Regions from separate parts of the Homo sapiens genome. Here region 2 is linked to region 1. The links come from fine-mapping of genetic effects on gene expression. A gene starts in region 1. The other region holds a variant in brackets. All regions are shown on one strand. Distances are between the middles of the regions.

What was found.
Region 2: its variant is fine-mapped to the expression of CD28 in whole blood (TOPMed, PIP 0.94).

What each region holds. Positions count from the first base shown.
Region 1 is chr2:203,700,394-203,709,730 of GRCh38, reverse strand. It overlaps CD28 (CD28 molecule), which reads right to left and starts at 3,092. Exons shown (of 4, transcript NM_006139.4): 1 at 2,983-3,092. The coding sequence starts at 3,034. RefSeq lists an enhancer at 3,063-3,212.
Region 2 is chr2:203,731,987-203,741,323 of GRCh38, reverse strand. CD28 (CD28 molecule) reads right to left here. Exons shown (of 4, transcript NM_006139.4): 4 at 2,412-6,540. The coding sequence ends at 6,412. Among named protein-coding and RNA genes, the nearest start is that of CD28, 30 kb to the right of the region's middle. The variant T/G (reference allele first, on the strand shown) is at 5,316.

The DNA of each region.
Region 1 (9,337 bases):
AAGTATTTTGTGCATACCATCCTTCTATCATCAATCCCAGAGCATTTCCCTCTTAAGGCTCTGTAGTTCTGGGCTGGACTCCTATCCCAAAGTCCAGCAAAATACTCTCTGTGGATCTCAGTTGCACAATTATCCGAGTCTAGTAGAAAACATGCAAAGGGCTTATCTAAGTTAAGGTTTCCTCACTCTTCCTAAATCACACTTCTTTAACTTAGCCATAAATATCTCTCTACACTGTCATCCAACTCATAAGGAATCAGGTTAGACTTAACCTTTATAGAATAAATATTTTAAGCTATGCTGTAAACAAATAAGTTACATTATTAAATTAATGGAAAAAAGAACTATTCTTCATATACATACATACACACACATTATTAAATTAATGGAAAAAAGAACTATTCTTCATATACATACATACACACACATGCACGCACACAGATACACATCTCAACACAGGCATAACAGTGGTTTCTCAGACCTAGGAAGGACAGTTACACTTTGACCAGAGAATTTCCCTATCTATAATTTCTTAATGGAAGGTGTGTACAGAGAAAGGCAAAGCACACAAGAAGCTTTGCACTATTTGATTAGAATGCAGCATAATTTTTTTTTTTTTTTGAGACTGTTTCCCAGGCTGGAGTGCAGGGGTGCAATCTAAGTTCACAGCAACCTCCGCGTCCCGGGTTTAAGCAATTCTCCTGCCTAAGCCTCACAAGTAGCTGGGATTACAGGCGCATGCCACCACACCCTGCTAATTTTTTTGTATTTTTAGTAGAGATGGGATTTCACCATGTTAGCCCGACGGGTCTCCAACTCCTGACCTCAAGTGATCCACCCGCCTCAGCGTCCCACGATTACAGGCGTGAGCCACCACACCAGGCCAAATCATACATTTTTTATGTGGTCATTCTTTTCTTGCTCGTAAGTTTTCTTACTGGAAAAGACTGTAAAAGTGTCCCCTTCACTCCCATCTCTTTCCTTCTTCATTAGATAGCCACTCAGTATCAAATGCTAAAAGTTACTAGAAAAGTGAATTGGCATTTGAAAAGTAAATATATGTCAAAGTAGAAAACAAAGGCCCTATGTGTGTGAACTCTCCAACCACTTATCTAGCTAGTCCCCTTTTAATAAATGTTCTAAAGAAAACATACAAAGTTTTGAGTCTTACCAAAAACTCTTCAAAAGAGAGTGAATAAGTTGATGACAGATAGGTGTCCACAAAGCACATCAGAAAAGTATTTAGTGTACAATTACCAATTTTAAATAGTTTTCAGTCAGGGTAGGCTTCCCTTGACTGTCTAACAAATTAAGTAATTTTAAATATTCTTTAAGTTTGAGAGATCTCTTAAAAATAAGGTTTGACCTTTTTAAAATAAATGTTAAAGATTCTTGTAGAATATATTTGGTAGCTGTAAACGCTTGGTACCAGATCTCATTGCCAACTCATGTCTTTCATTATATCAACACGTTTTATAAATATACACAATTTGTGCTCACTGGTACGTCAGACCATAAAATAAACGGGTATATATGCAACTACTGTACCTCTGCAGATTGGGAAATTATACTCTTTGGGCTATGTACACTTAATGTTTAAGAATAACAACAAATAATGCAGTCTCTGTACTGCCAAAATAAGAAAGAAAATTGAGGATACTGGCTTTTCAATGTATCTTTCAGGGAAAAATAACTGTCCTTATTTAAGCATGACTGTTGACCCCTATCAGTCCAGTTTTTGAACCAAGCGGGGGCCTTTTTCTAACTCTGAGAACACGTTGAATGAGCATCTTACTCCAGCCCACCCAAGTAACAAATTCTTTCTGTTAGGAATTGTGCTTGTGATTTTCCGAAGTTAATTTAACCCTGGATTTACCTGAGTCCATGAAATTACAAATCACACCATGTTAGATGGAATAGCATAATAATCAACAACACCGGCACTGGAGTCAGACTAAGGTGGTTCAGACCCTGCCTCCTATAGCTGCCACCTGTACATCCTTGGGCAAATCCCTTAATGTGCCTACCCCTCAGTCTCTTCATCTGAAATGAAGTTAACTGTAATACCTACCTTCTAGTTACGAGAACTGTGTGCTGCTCAAAGTGCTAGATGTATTATCCTCCTCATCATCGTCATTGGGAACTTAAAGAATTTTAATCTAAGAAAATACATTTTGGCCGATTGTAAAAGAAAACTAATTTATTAATATTGGTGTTGTAGCAGCTTCTGTGGTGACTCCAGAATTCATGTTGGAACTCATTCAATTCAGGTAGATAGAGTAATTACAGTTCACATTTATCTTGAAGCCTGACTGAGCTAAGCCCTTCGCATGGATTATTTCATTTTACCTCACAATGACCTTGAGGTGAGGTTTATTATTATTCCCACTTTACAGTTAAGGAAACTGAGGTTTGGAGAGTTTAAATAATAGCTAAGCCTAAGCTTACCTAGTGAGAATTGGACCTGTGTTAGGAACATAGGCAACCTAAATTCAGAGCTTCCAGAGCCAATCTACTTACAGCAGCTTTCTTAAATTAAAAAAAAAAAGAAAGAAAGAAAGAAACGATACATAAATTAAAAATTATTGGCCGGGCATGGTAGCTCATGCCTGTAACCCTAGCACTTTGGGAGGCAGAGGCAGGTGGATTGCTTGAGCTCAGAAGTTTGAGACCAGCCTGGGCAACATAGTGAAACCCCATCTCAATTTAAAATAATAATAATAATAATAAATTCTTGGGACACTATCAACTAATAGCTAGAGAAACTAATAGCTTAGAAAATTTATTTCCAAGGGACTTTTGTTAAGATACTATATTGTAGTCTGAGAATCAATGATTTTCAAAATAACACATTGCCCTATTACAGCAAAACTACACTTCAAATGTTCAAATTTCACACATTGTTAGAAATTTAAAATAAACTAAGCCAATTGGAAGACCTCAAAAAATATTTACAGAAAGAAAGACATTAACATTGTTTACCTGTTACTTGAATTGAAGGGAATAAGTTGAGAGCCAAGAGCAGCCTGAGCATCTTTGTCCTGACGATGGGCTAGGGTTCCAGCCCCTCCTCCCCGAGGAACCCGAAGTGTGAGGGGAACTGAAAGACGCACCTGCCAAGGCCTGAGAGTCTCCGTCATCCACGGCCACCACCACCGCCACCATCCCCTTAGGGCACATGATCAAGGCACTCAAACCACAAGGCATCCTGACTGCAGCATTTCACACAGGATATAACGTTGTTTTGATGACTTTAGACTTTTACTTCTATTTTTAAAGACTTTTTTTTTGTCACTGAAAAATAGTCGGTCACTACATGATGGGCTTATGGGAATTATTCTTTATTGATGGATATCAAGAGTTGTGTAAAAGGGGTGCTTGAAATCCAGCAGAGATTAAAGGGGAGACAAAGTGTTCTTAAGAAGGAACAGGCCGGGTGCAGTGGCTCACGCCTGTAATGCCAGCAATTTGGGAGGCCAAAGTGGGTGGATCATTTGAGGCCAGGAGGTCAAGACGAGCCTGGCCAACATGGTGAAACCCCGTCTCCATTGAAAATACAAAAAATTAGCCAGGCATCATGGTGGGTACCTGTAATCCCAGCTACTAGGGAGGCTAAGGCAGGAGAATCGCTTGAACCCAGGAGGTGGAGGCTGCTATGAGCCGAGATCATGCCACTGCACTCCAGCCAGGGCAACAGAATGAGAAAAGAAAGACAGAAAGAAAGAGAGAAAGAAAAGAAAAGAAAAGAAAAGAAAAGAAGGAAAGAAGGAAGGAAGGGGAGAGAGAAAAAAGAAAGGAAGAAAGAAAGAGAGAGAAAGAGAAAGAAAGAAAGAAAGAAAAGAAAGAAAGAAAGAGAAAGAAAGAAAGAAAGAAAGAAAGAAAGAAAGAAAGAAAGAAAGAAAGAAAGAAAGATGGAAAGAAAGAAAGAGGGAGGGAGGGAAGGAAGGAAGGGGGAGAGAGAGAAAGAAAGAATAAAGTCTCTAGCAGAGGAGAGATTTTCATAGGATGGGGACAGGTTGTGTCAAAAAGATAATGGTAAGAATTCTACTGAGGAATTGGGAAACATCTGCATAAACGTTTAAAGGAGTTACAAATATTAGAAATGTAACATTTGTGTAGGACATAAGGTAGCCCTCTGGAGCATTTAGCACACAGTGCTTGATTTATGTCAAGCCTCCTCCAACTCACTTCTAGGAACTTTGCAAAACCCATTCTACGTGCAAGCAGCCAGCCAGCTGAGTATCTGGGGGAGGTTCCCTAAGCAAAGGGAAAGTCAAAACAACATTCTATGTTCTTAGTGGGACAGTAAGGCAACCAAAAGCCCCTTGGTGTCTCATGCTCTCTATGTCCCTCAAGGTTAAGTAATAGGGCACAAAAGGAGGCTCCGTGGCAGGATTTCTGAGATTCATAACCACCACCCGACTGCACCCTTCTTCAACTCCCAGGCCCTTTGCAGAGAGGGTTATTCCACCAGCACGGCCAACTGCTCTCTTCTTCCGGCACCTACGTCAGTATCTTGTACTCAATGACTTCTTCAAAACTTTTCCAGTAATTTTTTTCTTCTTTTTGATAATCTAAGCTTTGTGCAATTACTCTAGTTGGGGGTTTTGTGTATGTGGGTTGTTTTAAAAGATAACTTGTATTGCTTTTTATTCTGACTATAAAAGTAAGGCATATTTCATTGAGAATGTTTAGAAAAATTATAAGCATTAAAACAAGATTCATCCACATTCTTACCACCCTAATATAAACACTGCTAATATTCTGGTCCACTGCCTTCCACCTGTTGGTCTGTTAAGATTTTTACATGTTTAATATCATGTTTTACTTATAGTTTTCATCAGATATGTACTATTATTTGTTATATCTTGAACATTTTCCCATGTCATTTAAGTATCTTTATAAACATTATTTGTAATTGATGCATAATATTCCATTCTCTAATTATATCATAAATTGTTTAACAAACCCCTAGTGTTGTTACCTTTTTTTCTTCGCTATTTTAAAATGCTACAGTCAAACTCTTTGATGACCTAGCTGTAAGAGGAGGCAGGCTTCATGTCCCTCCCTCCTGATCTGATAAATGACAGATCAAAAGTATTTCCTGTCCTGGTAGACCTTCTTTGTTCACACTTCAATTTTCCCACAAACACAGTCTTTGTGAACCCCTCTTACTAACACATCTTTTGGTCCTTTGGAGAAATTTGTCCTTGGAAATGATTCACTCACACTTCTGAACTATAGGTAAGTGACAAAGCTATGCCCTGAGTCCTGGAGAAGATTCACTTCTAGAATTTGACACAGTCTTCCTGGCTCTGATCCTCTATCCAGTTAGGGGAACCCATGCCTTCCCCAGGGCCTGAAGTCTATCTGGGGGAAAATTTACAGATGGCAAGGTGACCTTTCCTAAAAGGTCATCCATATTCTAGAGCCACCAGCCTACCCAGATCTTAAAACAAGAGGCTCTGAGACTCATTATACATACTGAGAATATACACAGAAGAAACAAAGATACCCAGTAGTTTTCCATGATCAACAACAAAAGGCTAAGGAGTGAGTTAATAACTGTCTTCAAGCATATTAAAGATGACTACATAGCATCTAGTTAATACTATGTAAATAGTAGTAATCGGGTCAAACTTAGCTGAAAAAGAAACAGTTCACTCATCTGGCCTAATTCCCTTATCTTGCAGAGAAGGAAGCTGCAGCCCAGAGAGGTCAGCTCATTTATACGAATTCACAAAACAATAATTAAATATTATTGGCCTTATTATTTGATGAGCCATATTTAATTTTCTTTCCATAGAATAAAAAGAAACACAAACTTTGACATTTGCCTTCCTATGTTTTAACATGTATGACACTAAAGAAGCAAACCATTTCATTAGAATCCTTTCACATTTGCTTTTGAAATCCAATAGCATTCACATATACCAAGAGGTAGAAATGACAGAAATAAAATAAGGACCTTAAATCCGGCAATACACAGGATACTGAGACCCTACAACATTTTCAGTAAAAATAATAGCATTTCCATACTAAGAACTTTACATTCCAGATCTCATTTAATACACAACCTGTGAGGAAGATTATTATTATCTCCATTTTACAGATGAGAAAACTGGTCTGAAGTGGGGTTAAGAATTGTCAGAACAAAAGAATGTCATTTTTCACAGAATTTGAAAAAGCAATCCTAAAAATCGTGTGGAATCCAAAAAGAGCTGAATAGTCAAAGCAATCCTAAGCAAAAAGAACAAAGCTTTGAAGTATCACATTACCTAACTTCAAATTACATGGTAAAACTATAGTAACCAAAACAGCATGGTACTAGTATAAAAATAGATACATAGAACAATGGAACAGAATAGAGAACCCAGAGATAAAGCCACATATCTACAACCAACTGATCTTCAACAAAGTTAACAAAAATATATGCTGGGGAGAGGACTCCCTATTCAATAAATGGTGCTGGGAAAATTGGCTAGCTATATGCAGAAGAATGAAACGGGGCCCATACCTCTCACCATATACAAAAATTAACATAATATGCATTAAAGCCCTAAATGTAAGACCTGAAACTATAAAAATCCCAGAAGAAAACCAAGAAAAAACTCTTTTTTACATCTGCCGAGGCAAAGAATTTATGAACAAGTCCTCAGAAGCAAAGGCAACAAAATAGACACATGGGACTTAAATAAACTAAAAAGCTTCTGCACAGCAAAAGAAACAATCAACAGAGTAAGTAGATAACTATAGAATGGGAAAAATATTTGCAAACTAAACATCTGACAAAAGGCTAATAACCAGAATCTACATGGAACTGAAACAACTCAACAAGAAAAAAACAATCCCATTAAAAAGTAGGCAGAGGACATGAACAGACATTTTTCTTTCTTTTTGTTTTTTTAAATTTACTTCAAGTTCTGGGATACATGTGCAGAACGTGCAGGTTTGTTACAAAGGTATACGTGTGCCATGGTGGTTTGCTGCACCTATTAACCCATCATCTAGGTTTTAAGCCCCATATGTATTAGGTATTTGTCCTAATGCTCTCCCTCCCCTTGATCCCCACCCCCTGACAGGTCACAGTGTGTGATGTTACCCTCCCTGTGTCCATGTGTTCTCATTGTTCAACTCCCACTTATGAGTGAGAACATGTGGTGTTTGGTTTTCTGCTCCTGTGTTAGTTTGCTGAGAATGATGGCTTCCAGCTTCATCCATGTCCCTGCAAAGGACATGAACTCATACTTTTTTATGGCTGCATAGTGTTCCATAGTATATACGTGCCATATTTTCTTTATCTAGTCTATCATTGATGGGCATTTGGGTTGGTTCTAAGTTTTTGCTGTTGTAAATAGTGCTGCAATAAGCATACGTGTGCATGTCTTTACAGTAGAATGATTTATAATCCTTTGGGTATATACCCAGTAATGGGATTGCTGGGTCAAATGGTATTTCTGGTTCTAGATCCTTGAGGAATCGACACACTGTCTTCCACAATGGTTGAACTAATTTACACTCCCACCAACAGCGTAAAAGAGTTCCTATTTCTCCACAGCCTCGCCAGCATCCGTTGTTTCCTGACTTTTTAATAATTGCCATTCTAACCAGCGTGAGACGGTATCTCATTGTGGTTTTGATTTGCATTTCTCTAATGATCAGTGATGATGAGCTTTTTTTCATGTTTGTTGGCTGCAGAAATGTCTTCTTTTGAGAAGTGTCTGTTCGTATCCTTTGCCCACTTTTTATGGGGTTGTTTTTTTCTTGTAAATTTGTTTAAGTTCCTTACAGATTCTGGATATTAGACGTTTGTCAGATGGATAGATTGCAAAAATTTCTCCCATTCTGTAGTTTGCTTATTCACTCATGGTAGTTTCTTTTGCTGTGCAGAAGCTCTTTAGTTTTAATTAGATCTCATTTGTCAATTTTGGCTTTTGTTGTGATTGCTTTTGGTGTTTTAGTCATGAAGTCTTTGCCCATGCCTATGTCCTGAATGGTATTGCCTTGGTTTGCTTCTAGGGTTTTTATGGTTTTAGGTTTTACATTTAAATCTTTAATCCATCTTAAGTTAATTTTTGTATAAGCTATAAGGAAGGGGACCAGTTTAAGTTTTCTGCATATGGCTAGCCAGTTTTCCCAGCACCATTTATTAAATAGGGAATCCTTTCCCCATTGCTTGTTTTTGTCAGGTTTGTCAAAGATCAGATGGTTGTAGACGTGTGGTGTTATTTCTGAGGTCTCTGTTTCGTTCCATTGGTCTATATATCTGTTTTGGTACCAGTACCATGCTGTTTTGGTTACTGTAGCCTTATAGTACAGTTTGAAGTCAGGTAGCAGGATGCCTCCAGCTTTGTTGTTTTTGCTTAGGATTCTCTTGGCTATATAGGCTCTTTTTTGGTTCCATATGAAATTTAAAGTAGTTTTTTCTAATTCTGCAAAGAAAGTCAATGGTAGCTTGATGGTAATAGTATTGAATCTATAAGTTACTTTGGGCCATATGGCCAATCTCATGGTACTGATTCTTCCTATTCATGAGCATGGAATGTTTTTCCATTTGTTTGTGTCCTCTCTTATTTCCTTGAGCAGTGGTTTGTAGTTCTCCTTGAAGAGGTCCTTCACATCCCTTGTAAGCTGTATTCCTAAGTATCTTATTTTCTTTGTAGCAATTGTGAATGGGAGTTCACTCATGATTTGGCTCTCTACTTGTCTATTATTGGTGTATAGGAATGCTTGTGATTTTTGCCTATTGATTTTGTATCCTGAGACTTTGCTGAAGTTGCTTATCAGAAGGAGTTTTTGGGCTGAGACGATGGATATGAACTCATTCTTTTTATGGCTGCATAGTATTCCATAGTATATATGTGCCATATTTTCTTTTTTTTAATTTAATTTAATTTTATTTTTTTATTTTTTGAGACAGAGTTTCGCTCTTGTTGCCCAGGCTAGAGTACAATGGCACGATCTTGGCTCACTGCAACTTCTGCCTCCCAGGTTCAAGCAATTCTCCTGCCTCAGCCTCCCAGGTAGCTGGGATTACAGGCATGCACCACCAGGCCCAGCTAATTTTTGTATTTTTAGTAGAGATGGGGTTTCTCCATGTTGGTCTGGCTGGTCTCGAACTCCCAACATCAGGTGATCCACCTGCCTTGGCCTCCCAAAGTGCTGGGATTACAGGCGTAAGCCACTACACCCAGCCCATATATGTGCCATATTTTGTTTATCCAGTCTATCATTGATGGGCATTTGGGTTGGTTCCAAGTCTTTGCTGTTGTAAATAGTGCTCCAATAAACATACGTGTGCATGTCTTTATAGTAGAATGATTTATAATCGTTTGGG
Region 2 (9,337 bases), 32 kb before region 1:
CTTCTTTCCGAAACAGGGCCTCCTTTTCTTCTTTTTCTCTCTCTGTCTTTCTCTTTGTTTTCAGGTGACACCCACACATATCCTTCAGTGTTGGCAGAGATGCTCACTCAGATAACAACTGGAGTTCATGCTGCACATTTTCATCTTCGTGTGTCATCATCACCATGTAAAACCACAACTATAGGAAAACAAAGCTGTTTGCTGCTCTTCTTCTCAACTGACATTTCCACCCAGCTCATGATTTGTTCTTTGGAGCCAGAGGAGAGTTTCAATTTATCACTGAGATAGCTCTGCCTGATGAAGTGAGAGTAAAATCCAGTCCACTTCCACCCTGAAATCCATTCACCTTTCTTCAACTTTTTGTCCCTTCAAATTCCTAGCATTCAAGGGTCTTTCACAGAGTTTCAACAGGCAAATCAGATAGGAAAATGAGCTTCGGGAAGCACACATTCTGGCCCTGAGAGTTGCACCAAGAATGAGGTCAGCTTTGAAGAGCTGATATATTCTTTGATCACCTCAAGCAATTTATCATCTCAAGCAATTTTCAAGTGTTGGGCCCGGTGTCAACACCCTGAAATGAACAAAAGTCACTCTGAGAAATTGTGTGACCTTCTGCTCTGGACAGTGGCCTAGGTTTCCAAGTGCTAGGATCCTGTGAATCTTCAAAGAGAAAGCACATATTTCTTCTGGGTTGCCAAATCAGAGAAAGCTGAGAGGCCCCACCATTCACATGTGTTCTTGAAGGGGTATGATCCCAGTTCACTGCAGCCTCAGCCTCCTAAGTAGCTGGGACTACAGGCCTGCACCATCACGTCTGGCTAATTTTTTTTTTTAATACAGACAGGGTCTCCCTATGTTGTTCAAGCTGGTCTTGAACTCCTAGACTCAAGTGATCCTCCTGCATTAGCCTCCCAAAGTGCTGACATTACAGGCATGAGTGACCGTGCCCAGCCCCAAACTTTCTTATGAGCACCACTGTCAAAAAGTCAAGAGTTAGGCCTCAGTTTAGGAAACACAGACAGACATTAGAAGCAAAGTTACCAGACAAGGTTCTGGTCTGCTTTCCAGACCATCCCATTTGCTGCTGCATAGTGTGATGGTTAGGTCCCCATTACAATGAATCCAGAAGCTTCTTTAATTTTTTCTCACCTATCCATTATCTCTGATACCGACAAGATGGGAGAGAAGAAAGGGTATTGCTTTAAAAGGGAATCAATCTGTTTTATCATACTGGAGGGAAAAAGTGAATTCGGGGTTGTGGGCAATTACAATATTCACCCAGTTGGGTAGCTAGAATGTTGTGGGAGGTGTTAGGTGAAGCGAAGTTTGCATTTTATTTTGTTTTGAACTTGAGTTTCAAAGTACTAGAACCTTTTTACAGAACTGGGTTACATTATTTTTATTAGCATGGTAAAGGAGTGCTTATTGAGCAGATTCATTTAATGGCTTTTTTTTTTTTACCCATCTCGTTCCTTTCCAATTGATTTGATTTGTCTTATTGAACTATCCATGAGTAACCAGCTGAGTTCAGTCTTTCTTGGAGTAGTAAGAGACATATAAGCTCATCTTTTTCAAGTTTAATTACCTTTATTAAGTTTAATAAGCTTCATTTCACCAAAGAAAAGAATCAGTTTAGAGATGAACTCATTGCACACCAATTTAATTGACTCTGAGTCACCTTCAGAGTAAAATTTCAACGAAGGAAACAGAAGGTGCTACATGAATTATTAGACCAGCTCTTGTGTCTGTTGTTCAAGCGCCTTTCCCTTCCCCTACCCAGAAGATGATAGGGGTGTGTGTGTGTGTGTGTGGGTCTGTGTGTGTGTGTGTGTGTGTGTGTGTGTGTGCTATTAGAGTGTTCAGCTATGATATGAGTATGACAGGTGAAGAAGTTGAAATTTTCTGTCCCCAGCATTTCCATTTGTGAGCACTTTTTGAATCAGAGCCAGAGAAGGCATTTATAGAATTTGTTGGGGGTAAAATCACCCCAGAAAAAAGAGTAGCAGGTCAGTAGTAGGATGGGATTTTAACATTTTAGACAAAGACAACATTTTCAGAAGTCTTAAACTAAAGATATGTTTAAGATATAGCCAATACTCCATTAAGAGGGAATTTGGGGACTTCAATGGAAAATCAACTTACTCCTGACAGTGGCTGAGTTGGCATGACTTTTCTAACAGTACTGGTTTTCCTCACTGCACAAAAATTTCTAAAACGTAAATGAACTTATATTCATCAGATTTTCTTTCACTAGATTTGGCTGTGTATATATTTTACCTCCTGTTTTTTTAATAAAATGAATTTTTGAACTTCTTAAGAGGAAAGTAGAAAATAGAACTGGCTTTCTCCCTCTCAAAGTATGATTATAACATTTAGACTCACCGTTAATTCATAAGGCCATGTAAAACTCATTCACTCAGTCAATAAATATTTATTATATACCAGGCACTGCTCTGGGCACTGGAGATACAGCAAGAAACAAAGCAAAGTTACTTGCCTCATGAAGCTTATAAACTACAAATAAATAAGAAAAATGTCTAATGTAAGAGATGGTAAAATGCTATGGAGAAAAATAAGCAAGGAAAGCAGACAGGGTGTGGGGTAGTTTAACTAGGGGAGAAGATGACACTTGAGCAAGGACCTGAAGGGTGACGAGGCAAGCCAGGTCATCTACAGAAGGACATTCTAGACAGAGTAAACAGGACATGTAAAGGCCCTGAGGTAGGAACATGCCTGTGATGGTTGAGTATTCCTGATACATTCCTATATGTCAGAAAGTATGCATATATCTATAGGAAAGAGAGACTTTCTGAGCCTCAAATGGCCTTGCAGATAACACAGACTCCCTCACCCCAGGTCTTGAGAGAGTGTGTGTCACTCTCTTTGACCTGGATTATTAATAAGTCTATAGCAATCAAGATCCTGGTTCTGGGTCCTTTATTGGCACCATCTCTAATCTCCAGCATGTAGTTGAATTTAACACTTTGGGATCAGTATCCAGGTCTGGTATAGTTCCCAGCTGGCAGTGCAAATGGCTGGGATAAGGGATCAGACATGCATTTAACCATCAATACCCTCATTAAAATAGCCATGAGGACCGGTGGCTCAGTTAGTTAACCCGAGGGACTGATGGGGTCAAGGCTGAAGTTGGATCTCTGTCAAACTTCTCAGCATTCACATGACACAGAACACATAGGTAAGCCTAGCCTGACATCTCAAAGAGGTCAGCCATTGGTCTGATAAGAAATTGTGACTGAAGTCAAGCAAACAAACCAGAAACGTACCCTGCTTGAAGTGAAATTAGTATTTGAAAGTCTAGCTTTTTCAAAAAAGGCTAAACTGGAGATTTATACAAGGATTTACCCCACACCTCTTTTAAATAGCAAGTTCTATCCAAATTCCTTGCCAAAGCGAAGCATATCTATTCTGAAAGCATATCTTTCTTAATACCAAAAGACAATATTAAAGTACAAATTTAAAGCAGACATATAGTAGTTTAGTAATTTTATCACTGAATATGTAGAACATAATGTACATACACTTGGTCTCTTTAAATTGGCATGCTTAACCCAAATAGGTGAGCTCACAATCAAAAATTATAGGAGTACCATTAATTATAAGACTCTTACAATAATAGCAGCAAATGACATTGTTTTCTTCATAACTACCATATCTGAAACTATGAAAGCATTGCTCCTACCACTGTTTTTGAACCATTTCTTGGTTCATACTAATAGTGAAAACGGACTTCCCTGTATAACATTTCTTCTTTGTTTCTGTGCAGAGTGAGTAAGAAACATCTCAAGTGTGATTCATCTTTAGTAGGCCTATTTTTCCAGTCAGAAAACAAAATCATTTATTACCATAGATCAAGTCTTTCCATTTAAAAAAAAGTATTTATTTATTTGCCACTGCCATTTCAAAAAACTCTCCAGCTCTGTCATTTTCAAATACAATCTGATAACTTGGATTGAAGAACTCTGTGTGCCCAAGAAGCTGGCAAGTGGCACACGTGCCAGGGTAAATCCAACAGTTCTTCAGCACCCAAGTACTGCTGAGTTTGATCTTCTTGGGACTGATTAAATCCATGGAATGGAAGCCCACTTAAAAATCAACCAAAGTACAGTATTTTCGATCTGGAATCTCAAGATTCCTACTCCTCCCTTCCTTCTCACATTAAAAAAAAATTAAAAGACCTCTTTCTATACATAAAAGTGGGAGGTGCCTTATATTTCATTACAAGATAAACTATTTCAAGAAACAGGAAAATGATGGAAGTTAAAAGGTCCTCATATTATAGCACCTCATCCCTGCGTAGTGGGTTTAAATTTGTGTTACAATATTCCCCCCTTCTTAGGCTATTGCCCAGTTTAATTTTTATACATAATTTATCTATATGGCAATAATACCAATAGCTAACATTGTATGTCGGGCATGCTACTAAATGTCAGGGATAGGCAGAGTCAAAGACAGACTTGGGCCATGCCCTTATGGAGATTATACTATAGGAAGAGACATTTGTAACCATTATCTCCATTTTATAGTTGAAGAACCATCATCTTAGGTGGGCAGTGACTTGCCTGAGGCTATTCAACTACTAACGAGACTTGAACCAAGTCTACGTGCCTCTAAAACCTAAGCTCCTTCAACACCTGAATTAACTGAAGCATGAACAAATGGTGAGGGCCACTGAAGGGCCATTCTTCAAGGTCCCCAGGCATATTCTAGTTGACTCAAACTGTAGGTAGAAAAATATCCATGGTCATTTCAGGGTCAGGCCTTACCCAGTCCCTTAAGAACTCTGATGCTCTCTTCAAAAGACACATTCCAAAATACTTTCCCATGTGAATGGACCTCCAAGGTACAGGAGCAGCTGAGCCCAGAGTTTTGGAGCTCTGAGCCCTAAACCACATAAAGTCCCTGTAAAGGAGCTCTCACCAGGGCACCTTCTGCCTGACCACTTCTGGAAGATTGTCACCTAATGCTGGCTATCTCCTCAGCACATGGCAAGAATTTCATTACTCCATTCTATTCGTCCTCCTTCCAAAGAACCTTCTTGGGACTCATCCTCATACTCTAATGAATGCTAACATCCCTTTTTCACAGTATTCTCACTTCTCCTATGGACGCTCTTTCCACAACCCACTTTGGATCTCCACACCGACATTAAAGAGACCAACTGTGCAACCCTGAAACATATGAAACAGGAAAGCTCCTACCTGGTCTGATTGGAATGAACTGTTAGACAAATAATCCTTCACAGTACTCAAATAATTTTGTGGTTTGTTGTTGTTGTTGTTGTTGTTGTTGTTGTT[T/G]GAGATGGAGTCTCACTCTGTCGCCCAGGCTGGAGAGCTGTGGCACTATCTCGGCTCACTGCAACCTCCGCCTGCCAGGTTCAAGCGATTCTCATGCCTCAGCCTCTTGGGCAGCTGGGATTACAGGTGCCTGCCACCAGGCCAAGCTAAATTTTGTATTTTTAGTACAGACGGAGTTTCACCATCTTGACCAGGCTGGTCCTGATCTCAAGTGATCTGCCCACCTCGGCCTCCCAAAGTGCTGGGATTACAAGCATGAGCCACTGCGCCAGGTCCCATAGTACTCAAATAATTTTGACATAAAGTGACCTTATTTCCTGACATATTCTTTCTTCATGTAGGAGAACTATTTTATTCTTTCGAAAGTATATTGTGAACATTAACACTGAAGTCTCATGACAGGGAGTGAGGAAAGCAACTTGGTTTACCTGATATTGCTTTGAGGGAATCCCTCATTTGACCAAATCCCTCATTTGGTCAAAATGACTAAATATGATCAGAATTCATAAAAGACAATGTCTATGTATTTCTAAACTAAAGGAAAACAGCATTAAATAGGAACTACGTGGCTCATTTCATGAGTGGGAGACAGTGTTTTAATGGTTTTTAAATATGTCTTCCTATCCCTCCCCCTACTCTAACTTACCCCGTTTAACCCACTAACCAAAAGATTAAACACCCATTTAACCAAAAGGAATGATTTCCTAGCCTTTCTTCTGCAACTAAAATGTCTGTGGATACCACACTTTGCTTGACTGAGATGTGCAGGTGAGTGAGAAAGGGAAGAGGCTCCCAGAATCCACTCCCTTTTTGTTTTCTACCCTAACTTCTCAGTCAAGTCACTAAGTACATGGTAAGTTGGAATGTGGGCCATGGCACTGTAAGACTTGGCCTGTCACAGGAAATCTCTTTTACTTCATTTCAGAGTCTCAAAATGATCTTGATATTTGGTCTAGTCACTCGAGAAAAATTGGCATTGGTGGCCCAACAGGGGCCTGAGGTGGCCGGCTGGAGATGGCGGTCATTTCCTATCCAGAGCAGTGATATTGAGCAGATGGGGGCTGCCAGCCGGCTGGCTTCTGGATAGGCGTCCGTGTCAGGAGCGATAGGCTGCGAAGTCGCGTGGTGGGGCATAGGGCTGGTAATGCTTGCGGGTGGGCCCGGGGCGGCGGGGAGTCATGTTCATGTAGTCACTGTGCAGGAGCCTGCTCCTCTTACTCCTCACCTGCAGGAAAGAGAAGTGTCAGTATGGAGGGACAATGTCATGGAAGGAGTTCTAAGACTGTGGGCACAACTATTCATAATATTAACTGTCAAATGACAGAGACACTAAAACACTAACCTTTTTTGAGCACCTTGGACTTGGGTAATGACTAATCACACCCAACTACTGACTCTTCACATTGAACTTGAAAAATCTCAAAGAAAGTATTTTAGAGAAATGCATCCCTGTTACTCTCAATGCTGTCATCTGACCTGAATTAAAAATGCACACTAATTAACATATCCACTGTTGATATGTAAATACACTTGAAGGCCCTTCCTCCTTTGACTAGGTTAAGCCTACCCACATTGTGATCTTCTTACATTAGCATTTGCTTAACAAGCTGTTTTTCCATAATTAACCGAAGAGGACTTTCAACTCCTCCAGAGTCTGTAATAATCACAAATTTGTAAAGGTGGAGTCCAAACTAATGGCAATTTACAGTTCTAGACAACTAGTACATTCCTATGTCTTTATGGGTATGTATTTCTACACTCATCTCTCTTTCATAGGCTTGGCTCCATCAGGATGAATTTCCACCAGAAGTGAGGGAAGTAAGGGCAATAGTTTCACCCACCATGAATCTTAGCAAAATTTTTGACTAAGGGTTAGGAACATCATTTCTGAATCAATGTGATAGTAAAATTCTACATTTCTTAACAAATGACCCAGAAAACATCTAAAAACAGAAAGCCATCAGATTTCTGGATTCAGAATTCTCTATTATGAAAAAAGTGCCTAGTTCCTGGCACACAGGCTGATACCTAAGTAGATAATGCTGTACATGAATGACATGATACCTGAATGAATAAATAAGTGAATGATTTCAGCCCTGGTTTTGTTTCCATACACTCCTGCCTGAGCACTTCACACCTTCCTTGTCAAAGGGGCATGAGTAAGTGCTAAAGAAAGGTTTGAAAAACGCTGACTTCCATGTTACTAAACACAGCTAACATGTTTTAAGTCCTCATCTTCTTCAACTCTCAGCAGTATTCTATACTATTGATAACTCTCTTCTTTTTGTGATACTATTTCTCTTTGCCATCTATGACATCCCAGTTTTTATCCTACCTGTCTTGTCACTCCTTCCCTGCCTCCTTTGCAAGCTCATCCTTCTCTAACCAGCCGTTAGAATTTCTCACTGCTTGGTCCTAGGCCTTCTTCTCTATCCTCTTTCCCTAGGCAATCTTATCCACATTCACAGCTTCAATTACCACCTACTCACCCAAATTTATATCTCTGGACTAAACCTCAAAGCCACTCTAAACTCAACATGTCTAAAATAAAACTCAAGATTTCCCCCAAATGCTGTTTTTTTTTTACCAGTGTTTCTCATCTGAGTGAATGACACTACCATATATACAGCTGCCCAAGACAGACCTCCTAACCTCATCCTTGACACCTCAAGCTCCCTTAATCCCTGTCCCAGGAGACATTTAGTGAAGTCTAAAAACATTTTGGATCATCACAACGGGGAGGGATGCTACTGGCATCTACTGGGTAGAGGTCAGAGATGCTGCTAAACATCCTACAATGCAATGAAGAATTGTTTTGGTTCTACATCCTTTCTGTAAATGAAAGACTAGAGCTGTCTTGAGCACAAGATCACAGCAGGGCAGGGGTGAGGCCGAGGAAATGTCTGTCCCCAGATGAGTGTAGAAAACAGCTGATAACCTGGGAAGCATTTTTAGTACTTACTCCAACCCTGAGGACTCCCTTTGCCAAACCTCCAAGTGTCAGCCTCTGCCTCCGGACACCCAAACCAAATCATAGCTGGTAGAGAGGCCACAGCAATAAAGGTGTCTTGATTCTCAGGTTCTTTACATTGCACATAAAATAATGAAAGGTCTGTTGCAGTCAGCTCCCATGCTTATCCTCAAGTGATTGTCAGATGGCAGACTTACTTATTATCACCCTAACTCTAAACACAGCAGTGGGATGAAAATGACAGATGCATGGCTGGGAACAAACACCACGCAGAACCTACAGCACCCATGTGCATTGAGTATGTGTGCATATGTGTGCAGGAAGTACCTACCCTATGTGTCTGTGTCATCTCCACCCCTTCAACAGTGAATGTCAGCTAATGATATGTAATTTCTGGACCATTCCTCCTTTGCCCTTCTCCCCATGCCAGCCTTACCCACTTGTTTCCTGGGAACAGCAGCAATACACAGGGCATATGCAAGGTAATCTACTTAAGTACGTGGTCTTCAAGAATCTACTGGATTATTATAAAAAGCAGACACTACCTGTACACACACTATCTACATTCCTCACATTATGATCTGCAGTGGGGAACATAATGTTTTTTAAAAAGATTTCTTTAGGAAAACGGGCAGCTTTACCAGCACAGCTGCATGAATGGAGAATTGAAAGACAGTGACAGGTGCTGGCCTGTGACAGCTTGACCAAAGGGAGCTCTTTATTTACTCAAATGTCAACATCAGGTCAAGAACTGAGATAGAATCTGCAGCTGCTCCCAGAAACCCGCTCAGCCTAGAAACCCACTCAACCCAGAACTGCCTACAGTAGCATATCAGGCCCTCAGGAAGTTCCGGAAAACAGCAACTTACATCAAGGCACGCTGCAGACCAGCCAAAAATAGGATCTCAGAAAATTACCCAGGAAACAGCTAAACTCCAGGGATCCATAATGGCCTAGATGCCCAACTCAGCAAGGTACTTGTTGCTTAAATACCAACAGCAGGAAAAGATGAGCCCAGAGTAAAAATACTATGTTATTCTACGAAATATAG